Linked DNA regions of Homo sapiens: region 2 is linked to region 1. A link means that fine-mapping ties the variant in region 1 to the expression of a gene that starts in the linked region. Tissue or cell type: coronary artery. Region 1 holds a variant in brackets; the other region holds the start of a gene. All regions are shown on one strand. Distances are from middle to middle.

Region 1 (10,658 bases):
ATATGGGAGGATATGTGTGGGTTTTATGCAAATACTACACCATTTTATATAAGGACTTGCACATCTGTGGATTTTGGTATTCATGGGAGGTCCTGGAAGCAGTCCCACTCAGGATACTGAGGGATGACTGTATACACATGTGATAGGGCTTTTGAAGTGAGAACTAAGCTTACAAGAATCAGGATGGTTTTTACTTAGCCTTATTAAGAACAGAATTAATTAAATAAAATTATGGAGATAAGCGTGGAAAGCTAGAACAGGAGAAACTTCGTTTGAGCTCCACATTTTATTTACTCCTACTCTGCTGTAATGATTCTCACTATGGGTGACACCTGGAGTTTGCAAGGCAGCTCCCCCCAGTTTGATGCCCAGTCCTTTGGGGCCATCTTCCATCCTCCTCCTTTTGCTCCTCTGTGTTTGAAAATGGCTTAGTGAGCCACCACTGCTGATAGATATACGTTTTAGCTTTGGAAAAACATGGAGGGTGAGCAGTGTGTAACACAACACTGCAGCTGGATGATGTCTTCTGGGCCCAAGGGCTCTCAGGGGCTGTCAGCCGCTGGGGGTCTGCTTTCACTTCCTGGCCTCGCTTCCTTCTCACAGCCCCATCCAGGGAACAGGTGTCTCCCCTGCCTGCTGTTTCACACAGAGATGCAGGTGTGCCGATCCTCACCTGTCCAGAGGTGCTGAGCCAGTCGTCCTCTCGGTTGCTGCCAGGGTTATCTGCCTCCCCCTTTAGTTGCCCTTCTGGTACCTCCCAGAACTGCTCACTGGCTTTGCAGCCTGTGCTCTCCCTGCAGGCCCCCACCCTTACCCCCATCAGTTTCATTGGAACTATTTTTTCAGGAGTTTCTCAATTCTGATCCAGGCACAAGCAAGCACTCTTGGTTTCAAAACCTTGTTCTTTTTTCCCCCTTCTCTTCCTTTTTGGCAATTTCCCCACTTCCCCCATCGCCTGTCGTTTTGAGTTAATTTTAGCTGGGTGATGGATATCAGTATGCATTATTAATTTACCATCTTAACCTAATTTTCTTTCTTAAAAAAATTAACCTTTTAGACTTCTGGTCCAGATAATCTTGTGAGTTTACACAGAAACATTCTCCTGCCAACATCAAAATTATAGCAGAGATAGATAAAATATTTTAGAATGTGCGAATCATGTAATCAAACTCAAAAACAAATTTAGACTGGGCATGGTGGCTCACAGCTGTAATCTCAGTACTTGGGAGGCTGAGGCTAGAGGATTGCTTGAGGCCAGGAGTCTGAGACCAGCCTGGGCAACATAGTGAGACCCCATCTCTACACAAAACTAGAAAAACACAACAACAACATATATAACTTCAAGGACCAGCAGTAAGCGAGGGCTGAAGTGACATATTTCCAGGGCTTTGGAATCAGACCAGGTGCCTGGAGGTGATTGGAAGTTCAACTCTTGCCGACTAATGGGGGCACTGGTGTATGGTTGGGGACTGGAGCCAGGCTCACCATGTGAAAACTGATTTGGGCGAGCCTTCTCTGTGAGTGAAAGCTTACAGTCAGTTTTTGGCCACCAACATTGAGCTAATGTCTGTGTTAATAGGAAGGGATGGAGACATTGGGCCTTGAGAAGACCCAAAATCTGGGCTTCAGTAATGGAAATGACAGCATAAACTAGTCATGGAAAGGTGGCCATCAGGAGAGGAAAAAATAAGCAATCATGTAAACCATAAAATAAACACTCCCTGCTAAGATGTACCTGCAAACTAACATGCAAACCATCATCAGGAAGCATAGCAACAGACTCCCAAAGTGGGAGAATGTGACAAAATGTGAACCGAGATACATTTTAAAACAATTGCACTTAAAATCTTTACGGAGATAAAAATCACAAAACACAAGTAAGTAGATTTCAAACTGACAGAAATCGAAAAAGTGAAAGATGCAGTCAGTGAAAAATTTGCCTTTGCTTAGTTGGTTTAAAAAGAAATAATTAGTGAAAAAGAAGCTTTTCAAACAGTGCAAAAGAACTATGTGATATTCTAGAAAGTGGTGATAAGGTGAAAGATCAAAACAGATCATCTGTAAGATCCCACCAAGTAGCATTTTAATACAGATTGTTCCTGCTTTTTATGCATATAGTTTTTTGGTACAAATATGGAATCATACTCTAGACTTTTATAACTTTTTCATTAACATAAACTTTTTTTAAATTAGTAAGTCTTCTATACCCTCAAATCTATACTTGCACATGGGCATGTCATAATTTATGTAAACATTCTGCTATTTTAAGCTATTTTGGACATGCTATAGTGAGCATCTTTAAATGTTATTTAAAAAATATCTTTTTCTTTGACTACAAAAATAAAAATATTGAAAAAATATAAAAACATGAAACAGATCACTAATTTCGCTGCAAAAAAATAAACTATAGATGTAATTCTGTGTGTGTGACTGTAGGTGCATGTGTGTGTGCAATAGCCATTTTATTACACATTTTGTGAATAGTTTTCCATGTAAAATATAGAGTCATATCACCTATAGCATGTTTAGTTCTCATTGTAAGCCTCTACATACATAATTAATTCCCATTGTATGACAGTAAGTTGTTTTATTTCACTATTATGAACAGTTCTATCAGTTATGGTTTATAAGTAATGTTGAGGTTTTCTTAACACACACTTATGTTCATTTTCAACAGGTGTTTGCTTATGATCATTGTTTCTGGTCTATGGATGAATCTGTCAAAGAAAAGTATGCAGGTAATAGAATCCAGCATCCTGTCAACTACTGATGGTGTAGAAGAGGGGTTCAGTATTTTTTCCCTTACACGATTGCTTGGCAAACCCCCCAAACTGTGTGTTTCCTCTGCTGTCACACCACAATAACAGTCATCAACACAGAAGATGACTTAATGTGACCAAATGTTGGGGGAGTTTTCCCTGCACCCCAAGCGGCAGACACTGGCTGGGTGTCCTCTAACTCAGTTCCGATGCTCTCTACCTGGGGACAGCGTCAGATCCACAGACTGAGGGCTCAGTCCCACAAGACCGCTCCCTCCTTCCCACCAGCGCAGGTCCAGGCCTCTAGAACTTCTGACCTACTGGCTTCCAATTAGGGTTCCCACAACCTCCTCTTTGGGTTTGATTAATTTCCTAGAGCGGCTCACAGAACTCAGGGAAACACTTGTGTTTAGGGGTTTATTACGAGGGATTTTCTTTAAAGGAGACAGGTAAACAGCCAGATGAAGAGATACAGAGGGTGAGATCTGGAAGGGTCCCAAGCGCAGGAGCTTCTGTCCTCATGGAGGTGGCGCGGCGCCCTCCCGGCGTGTGGATGAGTTCTTACCTTCCTATTGGGCCCTGTGTGTTTAGCAATCCAGAAGCTCTCTGAACCCAGTCCTTTTAGGTTTTTATGGAGGCTTCCTTATATAGGCATGATTGTCAACCGATTAGAAATGTGATTTGACAAAAAGTGCATGACTGAACACAGCACGTCCTGTCTGTTCAGACTTTTCTTGGCCATTCTGTGTAGCATTCCTTCCTTTAGGATATGAGGCAAGACCTTGTGGAATGAGAAGCTCTTGACCCACAATCAGATGAGAGTCTTGCCTCCGGCAGGTAAAAGGAGGGCAGGAGATCAGATAGTTTCCTGAGGCTAAAATGCCCCAACATGTAAAAGACTGCAACAAGGGTTAATGAGCCAGGAACTGCGGATGGTAACCTACATCTCTATAATTACCATAGGATATATATGAGTACCATAGGATTCTTTTGCATAACTGTAGAAAGTACAGACAACACCCTCCCGTGTTTGCTATTAGAGTTTTTAATGTTGATTGGAAAATGGGAGATTCACTGTGTGCCATTCTTGGTATACGTTGATGAAATTACATCACTAGTACACACAGTGGCTATTCCACATTCACACGCCCCAGCTCTTACATGAGGCCGGGAGCACAAGGTCGCCCCTTAGATTGCCCTGGAGGCCTGAGACTGGGCTGGAGAGACAGGATGGCATAGTGAAAGAAGGGGAGCACCGGCCAAGGAGAAAAGGAACCCTAGGCTGCAGGCCCAGCCCTGCTTCTTACCGCCCCTGCGCCTTTCAGTAAATCACCTCACCTGTCAGAGCTTCAGTTTTCTCTTTTTGATGGAAAGGAATATGCCATATTCTCTCTAAATTTTCTTTTGGCTCTGGAAGTCTGTTACTCTATTATTCTTCTAAATGATGACTGTCTCAAGCCCCATCTCACCACAAGTTTAGGACTGCAGTGACAGCCTTTGATTGCCTTTATTCCTTACTGCTTTTGTCGCCTGTTTTTAAACAATCTCTTTTAAATATTAAGCATCATATTGTTTTGGCTTCTGTTATGAGAAAGATGAATATTATGGCTGTTTTGAAGTTAAGATTCATTTGGTCTAGGTGGCCCAATATCAGAAGTATAAGTTAACTGGTATTAAAAAAAAAAAAAAAGGAAATGAGACATAATGGAATACCCTTGCCATAACATAAAAGCATCCAGTTCTTCCATGTGGTATTGAGACTAAGTGAGGTAGGGTGACTTGTCAGATTCACATTCAATTACTGACTAGTGACATATCTCATTTGGCCTGTCGGGGAGAATTTGACTCTGTTCTTTATGTCCATGATTGAAAGCTGAGGGAAATTTCCAGGCTCTGACTCCCTGTCCTAACTGGTATGTGTTGTAGATCCTGTAATTAGAAATTGTCACTGAGGGAAAGGAGAGGGGGTTGGTATATATGATTATTCTAAACTCTGGTACCCACCGAATAAAAGCATTGCCTGAGTGGTAAATAGTTAAGTCCAGGTACACCTGGGTCCCAAGTATAAATTTCAGATATTTATAATCATTGATTATAAAGTGAGCAGCTCATTGGCTCTGCATTGCAGGGGATTCTTAGTCGTGTTTATTTATTCAAGCATGTATTACAGGGAGCTGATTTTCCCTCATGTGCTAACTAGAAATAACCTGGAAGGCATAAGCCTTTGGGAGCATTCGTCAAATTTAAAAATCTTGTTTGGAGATAAATAAGCAGATTATACATTTTTGAGATTTTTGTTTTTGTTTTGTGAATTGTTCATATGTAGTTTTGGCTTAAAATATCTTTTCTCTTATTCTCTCTCTCTCAGGTCAAGATATTGTTTTCAAGTGCCTTGGAGAGAATATCCTGCAGAATGCTTTTGATGGCTACAATGCATGTATCTTTGCCTATGGACAGACTGGTAATGTTAAATAACATGAAATCACATAAACAACCATCAATGAAAGAAAATAGAACCATGTTTATTTTACTGAGTAACATTGCTGATTTATTCCTTGTTGTTTTTGCTTTCAGAAAGTACTGTAGATGTTGAAAGTAGTCAGTAACATTATTTTAAAATGAGTGTAATAAAATTAGGATTGGGATCTTTTATCTTTACTGATTTTTCTCACAAGGCACTGGCAGCATTGTTTTTCGAAAAAATACAGAGCTATGACTGTTGAACACATTACTAGCCATGCCTATAGATCATGCTTTTTTAAGGCTTTCAGAACCATAACAGATAAAATACCAAAAAGAACATACTTGTTAATATCTCACCAGTAATAACTAAGAAGCTTTTTGGCTTTTGAGTCTCTGTGGTCAAGAAAAGAAAATTTGAAGTGAACTAGTTACTTTTGTAAGAGTAAAGTATACAGCTTGTCCAACTAGAAATGTTCTCACAGAAGAATGTGTTGGATATTTTCAAGAAGCCTCATGTGTCGTGTTGAAAGGGCAGAAAGCTGGGGCCAGGCGGCGACAGCTCCAGTCCTGCT[CCTG/G]CAGCTGGCCAGCAGAGAGACCTGGGCAGTTACTTAACCTCTCTGCCCTTCAGCGTCCTTATCTGGAAAGGCTGATGATCATAGACCTTCTTGTAGGGTTGTCATAACGAGTTCCCATGTGCAAACTTTTTACAGAAGTCCTGGTACTTAGGAAATGTGGCACATTAGCTTTAGGTATTATGATAACAATAAAATGTTGCATGACAAAAGCAGCAACTTGTAGGTTAAAAGCATATTTGCAAAAACACTGCTACTAAAAACAGAAGGAATTATACTTAAGTGTCAGTAGTTACTGGTTTTCGGGCAGTAGGACTATGGTAATTTAAGTTTTTTCTTTCTATTTTCCTGTGTTTTCTAAATTTTATTTAATATATATTTCTTTTACAACGGAGAAAATCTTTTATTTTGAGACGGAGTCTTGCTCTGTTGTCCAGGCTGGAGTGCAGTGGCACAATCTCTGCTCATTGCAGCCTCTGCCTCCCAGGTTCAAGCGATTCTTCTGCCTCAGCCTCCGGAGTAGCTGGCACTACAGGTGCCTGCCACCGTGCCTGGTTAATTTTTTTGGTATTTTTAGGAGAGAAGGGGTTTCACCATGTTGGCCAGGCTGGTCTCAAACTCCTGACCTCAGGTGATCCACCCACCTTGGCCTCCCAAAGTGCTGAGATTACAGGCGTGAGCCACCGCATTCAGCCGAGAAAATAATTTTATATAAGAAAAAAGATTATTCTTTAGTTTCCACACTATAGTGAAAGGGTAGTGAGTTAATTTGCTCTGGGGTCCACAGGGAGAACCTATATTTTTTGTGCTGTGATCACTGGTTGGGAGCAGGCACTATAGTATTAATTATATGGCTCTTTCAGCTTATTTCGGAAAACTTTTAGACCTCACTATTTCTCACTTGTTTTAGGTATTTTCTTAAAGTATGAGGATGATTAAATAAGTTTATTTTTCTTTTTTTTTTTTTTTTTGGAGATGGAGTGTTGCTCTGTAGCCCAGGCTAGAGTGCAGTGGCGCAATCTCGGCTCACTGCAACCTCCGCCTCCCGGGTTCAAGCAATTCTCCTGCCTCAGCCTCCCGAGTAGCTGGGACTACAAGCACGTGCCGTCACGCATGGCTAATTTTTCTTTTTTTTTTGTATTTTAGTAGAGACGGGGTTTCACCTTGTTGCCCAGGCTGATCTCGAACTCCTGAGCTCAGGCAATCTGCCCACCTCAGCCTCCCAAAGTGCTGGGAATTACAGGCGTGAGCCACCGCACCCAGCCTATTTTTCTTTCTAAAGGACATTTGCTTTTCACTTTCACATGTGCAGTAAAAAAGCTTCTGTACTTATTATTCTCATTATATTTGGGTGTATTTCTCACTGCATTTTGGCGTTTTGCCAAGTGTTTATTATGAGCAACGGAAAGAGGGTTATGTATTTAACGTCTCAAAGAGACAATAGTAACTCTGATTTCCATTTTTTTAGGCTCTGGAAAATCTTATACCATGATGGGCACAGCTGACCAACCTGGATTAATCCCAAGACTTTGCAGTGGACTCTTTGAACGAACTCAGAAAGAGGAAAATGAAGAACAGAGTTTTAAAGTAGAAGTGTCCTACATGGAAATTTATAATGAAAAAGTTCGAGACCTTCTTGATCCCAAAGGGTAAAGGACTTTGAGACTTTAGTGTTTCAGCATTGTGAACTGAAACAGACTTAAATTGGCTTAAGTGCAAATCTTTTTAATTTTTTCAGAGGGTCTCGCTCTGTCACATAGGCTTCAGTGCAGTGGCACAATCATAGCTTACTTCAGCCTTGAACTCCTGGGCTCAAGAGTTTGTTTGTTTGTTTGTTTGTTTTTAAACCCAAGAAATTTCAGGTGGAATTCAGCTCTTTGTGGGCTGTGAGGTGAGGGAGAGGCATAATCAGAGAGATGAAACCTAGTCTTTAGGACAGTGAGTTTTTAAAGATTCTCAGGAACAAAAACAAGTGCCCATGATTTCATGGCACAGACTTGTAAAGAGAATTGGATTGGAAGTCTTAGGAGGCCTTCACAAACGCTGGTTTGACTCTACAGCTGTAACTGAGTGAGGAAAGTGCACGGTATCTAGAAATCTGTTCATTCCACAGAGTTTTTCGAGTTCAGATTTTAAGGAAGCGCAACAGTGGAGAAAGATGGAGATAATGACCACAGCCTGTGGCTTGTTGATGTAAAAACAGCATTAGGAAGGTCAAAGAGCCAAATAAGCTGAGGCCTACAGAAAGTTTGCAGGACAACAGGAGGACATTTAGTTTTGCTGGATGAGGAAGATGATCAAGGAAAAGAGGATCTTAGAGGCAGTGAGTCATAGTGACTCTCAGTCAAGAGCAAACAGAACCCTCAGCTCCTCTCTGTTGTCAGTTTTCCTTGACCAAGATGATAATCTTTAGGATTCTAACAGGGAGATTGAATTGATGCTCAGTGCTTCTGTACAAACTTTACTTAACAAACATTTATTGAGTGATCATTATATGCCAGGCACTATGCAAGAACTCACAGTGTGGACAGAATGAGAGTTTTGTAAACAAATAATTAAAATACAACGCTATCTGCTTTTAGCTTGTGAAGGAGGCTCCTACAAATTAGAGAGCAAAGGGACAATGACTGATCTTGCCCCTAGGAGAAGGGAAGATTCCAGAGTGTACTTGCTTGATAACATTTGTGCGGAGTGGGAAGTTGGTCCACTGGGAAGTTGGGTGAGAACTACTCAGGTGTAGGGAACAACCTCTCCCACACCTTGAAGGTGTAAATTAATCACCTTTGGAGAATGATCCAGCAGTTCAGTGTGGTCGGAGAGTAGGATGCACAGAAGTCAACATGGAACAAAAGGAGGCCAAGATGGGAGGATCGCTTGAGCCCAGGAGTTTGAGGCTTCAGTGAGCCAAGATTGTACCACTGCACCCCAGCCTGGGTGACAGGATGAGAGATTCATCCTGTCTCAAAAGAAATTAAAAATAAAAAATGTTCCAAAACAAAGAGGCTAGAGAGTACCTTACGGTCCAGGTACCCACATCCTACTTAATATTATATCCCTGTATATTTTTTTCTTTGTTCTGCCTTGAACACTTTTTCTTGGACTTTGACCTCGCAAAGATCATCACTTTTCTGAGATCCAGCCCAGACCTACTCTTTCCAGAAATTCTTAGCTGACTGACTTCATACCTGTTCATTCTTCTGCTTAATCCAGAGTGCTTGTATGGCATCTTTTTAACTTATCTGCACATGTACAGTCTTTAGTAATTTCTCCTATGTTTGTCTTGGGTATAGGTTAGTAATTAACAGCTTACTTACGGTAATTACTTACAGTAATTAACAGTGAATTCTGAAGAGCTTCGGATTTGCATAGCTCAGGATCTAGGTCCTCTACTTGTTACCTATTGAACAAGTTTCTTAAGCTTTCCAGGCCTAACTTGTCAGCCTAGAGGGAACTTGAAGAGGGAAATGATAGGATACAATTATCTCAGAGGGCTGTTGTGAAGATAGACTGGGATGATACACCTGAGGTCTTAGAACATTTGCTGGCATACAGTAAGTGCTCAATAAGTGGTAGCTGCTGCTATCTCCCCAGTGAAAATTTCTTGGAAATTTTTTTTTTTTAGTTTCTGAAGATTCAAAGTAAATGGATTAAAATCTCTAAAGGTGATCTCATTTCAGTCAAAGACCATTTGAGAAAACTTCATTTTTTATTCACGTACTAATTATATTAATTCAGCATCTAGTATATAGTAATGTAATTATGTTGTTTTACTCAGGAGATAATAGAGGATACATTAAGAAAAAGGAAATATGAAAGGAAAAAAGTCAATAATAGACTATATCCTGGGCGAGAAGTAAATCAAATATTCTATATCTACTTTATCCAGTTACATGGTAATAAGTGACATTTTTAATGGTTGATCCTAGGGTACTATAGATTTTAGATTTAAGAGTCATTTCCTTATCCCCTGATTTTACTGTTTATATGAAGGGTTATTCTAGAACTATCCTCTTCTTGCTGTCTTTATTATGGGTGTTAGTGATTGAATGTGGTTCAGCTTCTGTGCTAGTCATTCATTATATGTGTTCTACATTTCTTCCCTTCCTCTCCTGCCTTCTTAGTTACTAGCACTCGCTCTCCAAATGACGGAAGCTAACACATTTGGAGTCCTCACTGTCATCTTAATCTCTCTAATCTTCACTTTGTTAGTGAAGTCTGTTCATTCACTTAGTGATTCTTATGTGCCAGGACTTGTGCTAGGAACTGCAGACTCCCAAAATAATTAGACATTATTCTTGCTGTTCTAGAGCCCAAAGTTTATTATAATACAAATGGATAAAAGTAAATTAATTCATGCCTAAGGTGAGGATAAGGAGAAGCTGACTAAGAGGTGGTCAAGAGCAGATTATAAAGGAGCATGCGTAGCAAGCTGAGGAGTGTGCACCTCTCTTCATAGGCGTCAAAGAACCACCCAAAAACTTGACGCATTGGTTGGGCACGGTGGCTCATACCTCTAATCCCAGCACTTTGGGAGGCTGAGGCGGGCAGATCACTTGGGGTCAGGAGTTCGAGACCAGCCTGGCCAACATGGCAAAACCCTGTGTCTACTAAAAATACAAAAATGAGCTGGGTGTGGTGATGCACACCTGTAATCCCAGCTATTCGGGAGGATGAGGCAGGAGAACTGCTTGAACCTGGGAAGCGGAGGTTACAGTGAGCTGAGATCCTGGGTGATAGAGCAAGACTCCATTGGAAAAAAAAAAAAAAAAAAACAAACTTTAAGGATTATAATTTATTACTTATTTTAAAAAAGATTTTGTGTAGTTCAAAAGTGGACACACATTCGTGATTTAAAATAAGGATA
Region 2 (10,658 bases), 970 kb before region 1:
GGAACCCATGGATATAAAGAGCAAACTATATTTGCTTTCTTCTCTGTGCAGGGGAAGTAAGTTTGACTAGTGTATTGGTCTGTTCTCACACTGCTAATAGAGACATACCTGAGACTGGGTAATTTATAAAGGAAAGAGGTTTAATTGACTCACAGTTCAGCATGTTTGGGGAGGCCTCAGGAAACCTACAACCATGGCAGAAGGGGAAGCAAACACGTCCTTCTTCACATGGTGGCAGGGAAGAGAATGAGTGCCCAGTGAAGGGGGAAGCCCCTTATAAAACCATTAGATCTCATGAGAACTAATTCACTATCATGAGAACAGGATGGGGGAAACGGCTCCCATGATTCAATTATCTCCACCTGGTCCCTCCCACAACATGTGGGAATTATGGGAACTACATTTCAAAATGAGATTTGGGTGGGGACACAGCCAAACCATATCAACTACAGAAGGATGGGTGTGAGGGGCATGGAGTGAAATAAGGAAACTGGTGCCATCTTGTCCCCTTCCTGGGAAGGGATGATTCCTGATGGAGAGGGAAGCTCAAATTCCAGGGCTCAAAATCAGCTGCTGTGACTCTGCTTCACTTATGCCAGAAAAACAACCAAAACCAGCCTGGGTCACATGGTAAAACCCCATCTCTACAAAAAATACAAAAATTAGCTGGGTATGGTGGCTTACACCTGTACTCCCAGCTACTTGGGGGGCTGAGGCGGGAGGATCGCTTGAGCCCAGGAGGTAGAGGTTGCAGTGAGCTGAGATTGCACCACTGCACTCCAGCCTGGGTGATGGAGTGAAACCCTGTCTCAAAAAAAAAAAAAAAAGAAAACTAATCAAAAGTCTGGAGCTAGGGAGCAAGGTCAAAGCCTCTAGGTTTCTGATCTGGAAAACTAATGGCACCATCTGAGAATAGCCTATGGGAGGAGGGGTAGATTTTAGAGAAAAAAGTCATTTGGCTAAATTTTAGATAAACTCAGTCTGAGGTATCTATGGAATGGTCACCAGATATATCCAATAAGCGACTGAAAATACAGATTCTGAAGCTCATAAGAGAGTTCTAAAAATACAGCTCTGAGAGTCAGAAGGGTAAAGATTCTTTCATTAACATGTCTCTCCATCATTTCTATGCCAGAATCTTCCCCCCAAGTATTCCCTAATATACATGCAAAGTAAGATGAAAACTATTTTTAAGATTGTACCAACTTCCCTACTGGTGTGATGAACTAAAAAAAAAAGAAGACATACACAAATTTTTCTTCCACAAATTAGGGTGGACAAACCTTCACACCGCCATGAATTTTTAAAGCTCTAAGTAAACAAAAAAACATGTATCAAATAGAAAAAACTAATAATCCCTGAGTCTATCTTCAAGAAATGGTTTTGAGAATAGACACAGCTCCAGCTGTTTCCATCATTTTGTTAGGCTCTGACTTTTTATAAGGCGTAAGTCAATGAAATCCTACCAATGGTCCTTCTGGGTGATACAGCCTGTCAAGAGTCAATCTGGGCCAGGTGCAGTGGCTCACGCCTGTAATCCCACCACTTTGGGAGGCCGAGGTGGGCAGATTCCTTGAGGTCAGGAGTTCGAGATCAGCCTGGCCAACATGGTGAAACCCCATCTCTACTAAAAATACAAAAATTAGCCAGGTGTGGTGGTGGGTGCCTGTAGTCCCAGCTACTCTGGAGACTGAGGCAGGATGATCGCTTGAACCCAGGAGGCAAAGGTTGCAGTGAGCAGAGATTGTGCCACTGCACTCCAGCCTAGGCAACAGAGTGAGACTCCGTCTCAAAAAAAAAAAAAAAAAAAAAGGAACCAGGCATGGTGCAAAGCTTTCACTGCACTCCAGCCTGAGCGACTCTGTCTCACAAAAAAAAAAAAAAAAAAAGTCAATCTACTGAAATAACAGAAAATATGTAGCCCTCCTGCTGTATTGAAGAAGAAAGATTTTAGTAAGATTAGAAGAAAATCACCTGGTCTAACCCTCTCATATTATAGAAGAAAAAACTGAAATTCAGAGACTAGAAATTTCTTGGAGCAGAGTTCATTCCTGGGGCATCACTGTCCTGAAATCAGTCATCTGTCTTCTAGTTGAAAGTTTTCTGGAAACATCCTGTCACTCCAGATGTTTTTCCATGATAAATGAGCGACACTGTCCTTGAATGTATCACCAGCTGTAAATGTCATTTCTCTGATACTTTTCATTTAAAGTGGGTTTTTTTTGTTAAAATATGCAATTTTATTAAGCCCTGGTCAAATACATTAGCCTCTATAAAATGTCTCTTGTTTTAGACCTTATTTCTCATTGCAATTTTCCATTTCCTCAGCTTCCTTCTCATTATGAAAAGAGCATTATCTAACATTGAACTTGTCCTGGGCAACTGAGAGTAGGAGAGACTCACAAATGCCCCCTGCCTTCAGTTTTACGCCCAAGGGAGAGATCCCAGGTAATGCTTGCGTCACAATCAGCACACTTCTCAGTGGGGCAGGCCACTAGGCCAACTAAAACGTGGTCCCGATATCTCTGCAAGGACCCCTTGTATCTCGGAGTGGTGGGAGCAGAGAGGTGAGCCGGCAGATGGGAGGGCAAGACTTAACCTCAGATCTGTAAAAGTAACAAGTCAACAATACCTTAATCTTCACTGTAAGCTACTATCTACTGCTATCTACTGCACATAATATTTATAGTACATCTGTTCCTCTTTAGCTTATGAAAAAAGATTACAGAGTATCTACTTAAATGGAAGAAAAATCTACATTTTAATTTATGGCACCAGAAACAATGTCAGTTTTCTTTGTCAAAAATAGTCAGCAGAGGGAGCTCAACACTGCTGCTGTTCGAAATGGCTTTACTTATGCACTTGTCTCATCCCAGCCACCAACAGCCACCAACAGCCCCCAGCAATGAAGACTACCGGAGAAGAAGCCAAACTTCCTGTCCCCACATGTTTACAAAGGAGCTTGTCCACTCCACGCCTGGCAAAAAATGTCACAGTTCTAAGCTTATACACTATTGGTGGGAATATAAATTAGTTCATCTATTGAAAATAGTATGGTGATTTCTCAAAGGACTAAACACAAGTACCATTGGACCCAGCAATCCATATAGAGCTACCAATCCAAACGGAACTACCATTCGACCCAGGATCTACTCAAAGGAAACCATTGTATTAAAAAGACAACTGCACTCCTATGACTATCACTGTACTATTCACAATAGCAAAGTATGGAATCAACCTAAGTGTTCATCAACGGATGACTGGATAAAGGAAATGTGGTGTATCTATACGATGGAATACTACAGAGCCATCAAAAAGAAAGGAAACATGTCTTTTGCAACAACATGGATGGAACTGGAGGCCATTACCTTACGCGATAACTCAGAAATAAAATCAAATGCACATGTTCTCACTTTTAAGTGGGAGCTAAAATGAGTACACATAAACATAAAGAGGGAAATAACAGACACTGGGGACTCTAAAAGCAGCGAGGGTAGGAGGGGTTTGAGGGCTGAAAAATTACCCATCTGATACAATGTTCACTATTTGGGTGGTAAGTACACTAGAAGCCAACTTCACCATTACGCAATTTATCTATGCAACAAATCTGCGCAAGTACTCCTTGCATCTATATAATGTGTGTGTGTGTGTGTCACAGTTCAAGTCCAGGCGCGGCCCCCCTTTTGACAGCGACCGTAAATCCCTTTACACACCCCACCCTCCAGAGACAGGAAGGGCCTGGGGTGCGGCCAGCACTGGCGTGGGGGTCTCGCAACATGCAGCAGAGAATCCAGCGCCAAGCCGTGGGGTACAGCGGCGCCAAGCACCGCCGATTATGCGGGAGAAGGGAGCCGGCCTTCCCCAGGAAAAAGCTGACGTCACCCTCCCCTCACAGCCCCCCCCGCCCTCCCGGCCGGGAGACCCCCTCTGCGCAGGCGCATGTGGGGAGGGACGGCCAGACAGGAACAAAAACCTTCCAGGCAGCGACTCCGCGTCCCTTCTCAACCCTCCCCGCCCCCACTCCGTCGCCCCCTCCCTCAGTGGACGCCAGGTCTGGGCTTCAGGTACCTTCGGCCCGAATGCCCAGGATGAGACACCTTCTGAGTCGCCACCATTGGCGACCAGGAACAGGTTCCACCCCTACGGAAAGCTGAGAAAAGGCTTTTCTCAAGCAGCAAACCCACCTCTTTTGAGTCTTCTCCGCCATGGTACGGCCCCAATTGGAACGTAGATCGACACCACCGCCTGGGTAGAGCGATAATTCCACATGCGATTGGAGAGCCTGGCAGGGTTGGGGGAGGGGCGGAGCCGGGGTGGGGCGGGGACCCGGAAGCTTGCGACTCTTGTTTGCGTCGCGTCTGGGCGCACAGGACTGTACTTTTGGTAGCGGTGCGGGGCCGCCCGCGGACTTTAGCCCTGCATAGAGATGGGTAGACCCTAATTTGGAACAGCCATTGACTGGGCACAGGCCAGCACTTTGGGAGGCCGAGAGGCCGAGGCAGGAGGATCGCTTGAGGCCAGGAGTGCCAGACTGCGAGACTAGCCTGGGTAACATAGTGAGACCCTCTCTTCAAAAAAAAAAAAAAAAAAAAAAAAAAAAAGCCTGTCACGGTGGCCTGCGCCTGTACCCCAGCTACTCGAGAGGATCGCCTGAGCCCAGTGAAGCTGCAGCGAGCTGTGAGGATGCCACCGCACTCCGGCCTGGGCTAAAAAGCTAGATCGTGTCTCTGATAAAAGAATAAAAGCTGTTTATTGCAATCCAGTCCGCGTCATTATGCCCTCATTTTACCCACTCGCGTAGGCGTAATTACACCCTAAAGGTATTTCTCTGACCTCGCCGATGTCCTTTTCAGCCTGTCTTTCTCTACTCATTAGGGCTCCTTCTGGCCCTTTTCTCGCTCTATATGAGTGCATCCTTCCTATAGGTTAAGTGCCCTCTACCTGTTTGCTCTCTAATGAATGTCTCTGGTTCTGCCCTCTGTGCCGATCTTCACACCTGACATTCGGTTGACTAATTGACATCTCCGCTCAGAGTCGTATCGAACCTAAAACTTACAGAACATGACTTTCGATTAACACTGCCGTCCTCCCTGCAACCTGCTGCTTTTTTGATCCACACCATTTGCCTAGCTGCTCAAGCCAGACACTCAAGAGTCACCCTGGCACTCCTCACCCCTACATCTGTAATAGATCTGCAAGTTCTGCTTGTCCTACCTCGGGTCTCATGCTTACACTTTTGTCTACCGGACCATCTCTCTAATCTCAGCCGATGTGTCTCTCCCAGTTGTTCACTCATTCTGTACTTGGCCTCTGAAATCACACCTCCTCATCTCCCACCCCCAACCCTGATCCAAGTAGTTCTCTTGTAGTCAAAATCATCCTTTAAAAGACAAATTGAGGCCAGGCGCGTGGCTCAAACCGGTAATCCCAGCACTTTGGGGGGCCGAGATGGGAGGATCGCTTGAGGCCAGGAGTTGGAGACCAGCCTGGTCAACACAGCATGATCCCGTCTCTATATATTTTTTCTATAATGTATTTTTTTAATGGAAAAAAATTAAAAATAAGAGCCAAATTCAGTTATTTCCCCTTCCTCTTAAAATCTAAAATCCAAACTGCTTTCCATAACCTATCTCTGAGCTACATCCAGCCCCTGCCTACTTCTCTCTTTCTCTTTCTATGTGTTCGATCACACCCTCATTCTCCAAAAAAGCAAAGCTGACTCTCCACCCCCAACCGCTTCCACTTGCCCCCACCCTAACACCTTCTGACCCTTTATGTCTCGGATGTCACATACTCAGTTTCCAACCAGAGAAACAGAACTAGTAGTAGATGGATATCAAAAGGCTTATTGTAAGGAATTGGCTTACATGATTGTGGAGCCCCAGCTAAGCAAGTCCAAAATCTGTACACTAAGCTGGAACTCTCATGCAAGGGGTGAGGCTGTTGTTCACAGGAGGAATTTCTTCAGGGAAGCCCATCTCAGCTCTTATGGCCTTCAACTGATTGAATCAGGCCCACCCAGATTAGCTAGGATAATCTCTCTTCCTTAAAGTGAACTGATGATGGGCTTTAATCACATCCACAAAAATACCTTTACAGCAGCATCTAGATTAGTGTTTGACTAATGACTTGGGAATGTAGCCTAACCAAGTTGACACAAAAAACTGACCATCACACTCAGGGAAACCCTCCTTGACTGTCTTAGTTCTTTCTGGCTGCTATAACAAAATACAGTTGGCCCTTTGTATCTGTGGGTTTGACATCTGTGACTGGTTGACAGCAACCCACGTTGGATCAAAAATTTGGGGGAAAAAATTACGCAAGTTTCCAAAAAGCAAAACTTGAATTTGCTGCATGCCAAGTGCTACATTGAAGCCACATGAATGAAGTGATATGTAGGAATTGTATTAGATATTCTGAATAATATAAAGATGATTGAAAGGATATGGGAGGATATGCATCAGTTAGTTATATGCAAATACTACACCATTTTATATCAGGGGCTTGAGCATCTGCAGATTTTGGCATCAGGGTGTCCAGGAACCAGTTCCCCAAGCATACTGAGGGACAGTTATACCTTAGACTGGGTATAGTAGTCCTTTCTTATCCTCGGGGGATACATTCCAAGACCTCTAGTGGATGCCTGAAACCACAGATAATACTGAACCCTCTATATACTATGCACACATTTCCTTTTCCTCATTAACAGTTTCATGGGTAAAAGATTTATTCTTACCATAGATCTTAGCAACCTCAGCATATAGTTTTTTTTCTTTCCTTTTGAAATCAAGAAGTTTTCACATTTTCACTTAAAGCATTTTACAGTTTCTCTTTGGCAGATCCAAATCACCTGCATCGCTACTTTTGTGCTTTGGGGCCATTATGAAGTAAAATAAGAGTGACTTGAACACAAGTACTCTGATACTGCAACAATGTATCTGATAACTGAGAAAGCTTTAATGGGCAGGTAGTACCAACAGTGTGGATACAAAGGGATGATTCATGTTCTTGCCTAGAGAGAGCAGCATGGTACGAGAGTTCATCATGCTACTCAAAATGGTGTGCAATTTAAAACTCACAAATTGTTTATTTCTGGAATTTTCTATTTAATATTTTTGGACTGATGTTGACTACAGGTTACTGAAACCACAGAAGATGAAACCATGGATAAGTGCGACTACTGTTATTTATAAACAAAGACATTTATTGCTCACAGTCCTAGAGGCTGGGGAGTCCAAGATCAAAGCGCTGGACATTCTGTGTCTGATGAGAGCCCTCATCACCTAATCACCTCCCAAATGTCCCACCTCTTAATTGCCAAGTAGTCAATAAAATATCAGATGTGAGGCTCGGCAGAGAGGACAGAACCTTGAAGGTATTATTTCAACATATGAATTCTGGAGGGACAAAAACATTCAGACCATAGCACCATCTAATCAAAAATAGGCTACCCTTCCTATTCTAATTATTTTCTCTGTGGGGTAAGGATTGCACTCATCACCAGCTATACTTACTTATCTTACCATTTCCTCCAAAGACTTAAGTTCCATGAAGTTAGAGCCATGTGAGTTTTGTTCCCACTCTTTACTCAGCACCAACCACAGTGCCTGGTGCATGGTTGATATTCCTCTAAACTTGTTGAATAAGTATATGAATGAATTTAGAGTGTTTTGTCACTGCCAACCATGTAAACACCTATCCATTTTCAAGCAATGTGTATTTATATTAATTTGAAAGACTTCTATGGCATACTTATAAAGGATCATTTTATCAGTATTAGGTACAGTGTCTAGGGCCTATAGGCTTTTTGGGGATCAACGAACTGTTTGAAACCTGAAAATAAAATGTACTGATTCCAGAATGTAAACCGTACAGGTAGGAATTAATTAATGCTAAGGCCAGGCACAGTGGCTCACGCCTGTAACCCCAGTTCTTTGGGAAGCTGAGGCAGGTGGATTGTTTGAGTTAGGAGTTCGAGACTAGCCTGGGCAACATGGCAAAACTCTGTCTCTACAAAAAATACAAAAATTAGCGAGGCATGGTGGCACGTGCCTGTAGCCCCAGCTACTTGGGGCCTGAGGTGGGAGGATCACTTGAGTCCGGGAGGTCAAAGTTGCAATGAGCCAAGATCATGCCAGTGCACTCCAGCCTGGGCAACAGAGCAAGAGCCTGTCTCGATAATAAAATAAATAAATGCACACATACTTTTTTTTTTTTTTTGAGATGGAGTTTCACTCTTGTTGCCCAGGCTGGAGTGCAATGGCGTGATCTCGGCTCACTGCAACCTCCACCTCCTGGATTCAGGTGATTCTCCTGCCTCAGCCTTCTGAGTAGCTGGAATTATAGGCACCTGCCACCATGCCTGGCCTTTTTTTTTTTTTTTTTTTTTTTTTTTTTTGGATTTTTATTAGAGACAGAGTTTCACCATGTTGGCCAGGCTGGTCTTGAACTCTTGACCTCAGGTGATCCACCTGCCTCTGCCTCCCAAAGTGCTGGGATTACAGGCATGAGTCACTGTGTCCAAACCCACACGTACATACTTAATTCAATGTCTACAAAGCAACTTTTTTCTTAACTAATCAACTGCAATTCAACTCTTCTATACCTAGAAATTATATTTGATGTGGGATTTGGTTTCATTCAATATGTTTAATATGATGTTATCTTATTTAGTTCCTTAGGGAGCCCTCTTCTTCCCTGTTGGGAATAGGCCCCCAAAATCTGGTCATAAACTGGCCCCAAAACTGGCCATAAACAAAATATCTGCAACACTGTGACATGTTCGTGATGGCCATGACGCCCACGCTGGAAGATTGTGGGTTTACCAGAATGAGGGCAAGGAACACCTGGCCCACCCAGAGCAGAAAACCCCTTAAAGGTGTTCTTAAACCACAAACAATAGCATGAGCGATCTGTGCCTTAAGGACATGCTCCTGCTGCAGATAACTAGCCAAACCCATTCCTTTATTTCAGCCCATCCCTTTATTTCCCGTAAGGAATATCTTTAGTTAATCTATAGAAACAATGCTTATCACTGGCTTGCTGTCAGTAAATATGTGGATAAATCTCTGTTCGAGGCTCTCAGCTCTGAAGGCTGTGAGACCCCTGATTTCCCACTCCGCACTCTATATTTCTATGTGTCTGTCTTTAATTCCTCTAGTGCCGCTGGGTTAGGGTCTCCAGGACCGAGCTGGTCTTGGCAAGTGGCGCCCATACGTGGGGGCTCAAACCCAGGTCGAAGAGTCATCAGAGCAATGGTTGGAGAATGTGGAGCTAAGCTGGAGGACACCCAAGTACTCTTAAAGCAATCCCCGTGGTGGGTAAGAAGGGGAGCTCAGAAGCATCAGGGTAACAATGGGACAAGTGTGGGCTCTGGTTCGTTCCACTTTGGAACCTTTTCACACTGATGATGAGGAAGGAGAGTATAACGAGATAACAGAAGAGGTTACAGAGGAGGTTTATTTGCCAGCTAAAGCTAAAGTGGCAAAGGAGGGAGAGGTTCATCCCTACCCTTCTGCACCCCCTCATTATTATTTTGAAGAAAAAGAGTGGCCTCACCCTCCAGATCTTTCTTTTCTGGAGGACACTGAGTGAAAAGTAGTTGCCCCAGTGACTGTTCGAGCAGCGCCTCCAGCGACCACTCTCAGTTCTATTCAGGCAGGAATTCAGCAAGCTAGACGAGAGGGTGATATAGAGGCTTGGCAGTTCCCTGTTAGAATACACCCACCTGATCAACAGGGAACTATTACAGCTACATTTGAGCCTTTTCCTTTTAAATTACTCAAAGAATTTTAAACAAGCTATTAATCAGTATGGACCAGGTTCTCCTTTTGTAATGGGACTGTTAAAGAATGTTGCTGTTTCCAGTCGGATGAGTCCTACTGACTGGAACACTCTTACTCGAGCTGGTCTAATTCCCACTCACTTCTTACAATTTAAAACTTGGTGGGCAGATGAAGCTTCCATTCAGGCTGCTCGCAACACCCAGGCCCAACCTCAAATTAATATAACTGCAGACTAACTTTTGGGGGTCAGCGGCTGGGCTGGTTTAGATGTAGAAGTGGTCATGCAGGATGATGCCATAGAACAGCTTAGAGGAGTGTGCATTAGAGCCTGGGAAAAAAAATCACTTCAGGTGGAGAGCAATAACCTTCCTTTAGTGCTGTAAAGCAGGGACCAAAAGAACCATATGACGATTTTATAGCTCGGTTACAGGAGTCTCTTAAAAAGGTAATTGCAGATTTGGCTGCTCAAGATAAAGTGTTGTGGTTATTAGCTTTTGACAATGCTAATCCCGATTGCCAGGCTGCTCTGCCACCTATTAGAGGGAAAGCACATTTAGTTGATTATATCAAGGCCTGTGATGGTATCGGAGGTAATCTGCATAAAGCTACTTTGTTGGCACAGGCAATGGCAGGACTGAGAGTGGATAAAGGAAATACTCCATTTCCTGGAGAACTGTGGGAAGCATGGTCATACTAAAAAAGAATGTAGAAAAAAATCAGGAAGTCAGGCCACCAGATGGGGGAAAAAAGAAAACTGCTGAGCCTGAAGTATGTCCAAAATGCAAAAAGGAAAACATTGGGCTAACCAGTGTCATTCTAAGTTTGATAAAGATGGGAACCCGATTTCGGGAAACACCCTGAGGGGCCCATCCC

Alleles and levels. Positions count from the first base shown, and alleles are read on the strand shown. Sizes are in standard deviations (SD) of each study's normalised expression.
For the expression in coronary artery of the gene that starts at base 4,222 in region 2, CCTG is the low allele of the variant in region 1 and G is the other (moderate effect, 0.61 SD a copy in GTEx).

The links. PIP is the estimated chance that this variant, and not a neighbour inherited with it, causes the effect.
Region 2: it holds the start of DCTN6, and the variant in region 1 is fine-mapped to the expression of DCTN6 in coronary artery (GTEx, PIP above 0.99).

Annotation. Positions count from the first base shown.
Region 1 is chr8:29,183,077-29,193,734 of GRCh38, reverse strand. KIF13B (kinesin family member 13B) reads left to right here. Exons shown (of 40, transcript NM_015254.4): 4 at 2,678-2,738; 5 at 5,128-5,220; 6 at 7,263-7,443. Among named protein-coding and RNA genes, the nearest start is that of KIF13B, 75 kb to the left of the region's middle. The variant CCTG/G (reference allele first, on the strand shown) is at 5,795.
Region 2 is chr8:30,149,933-30,160,590 of GRCh38, reverse strand. DCTN6 (dynactin subunit 6) reads right to left here and starts at 4,222. Exons shown (of 7, transcript NM_006571.4): 1 at 4,185-4,222. The coding sequence starts at 4,207. DCTN6-DT (DCTN6 divergent transcript) reads left to right here and starts at 3,931. Exons shown (of 1, transcript NR_186490.1): 1 at 3,931-4,762. It overlaps LOC124901927 (a long non-coding RNA gene), which reads left to right and starts at 2,481. Exons shown (of 2, transcript XR_007060880.1): 1 at 2,481-2,567; 2 at 2,709-3,419. RefSeq lists a silencer at 3,852-3,961 and enhancers at 4,022-4,171, 4,115-5,097, 4,922-5,131.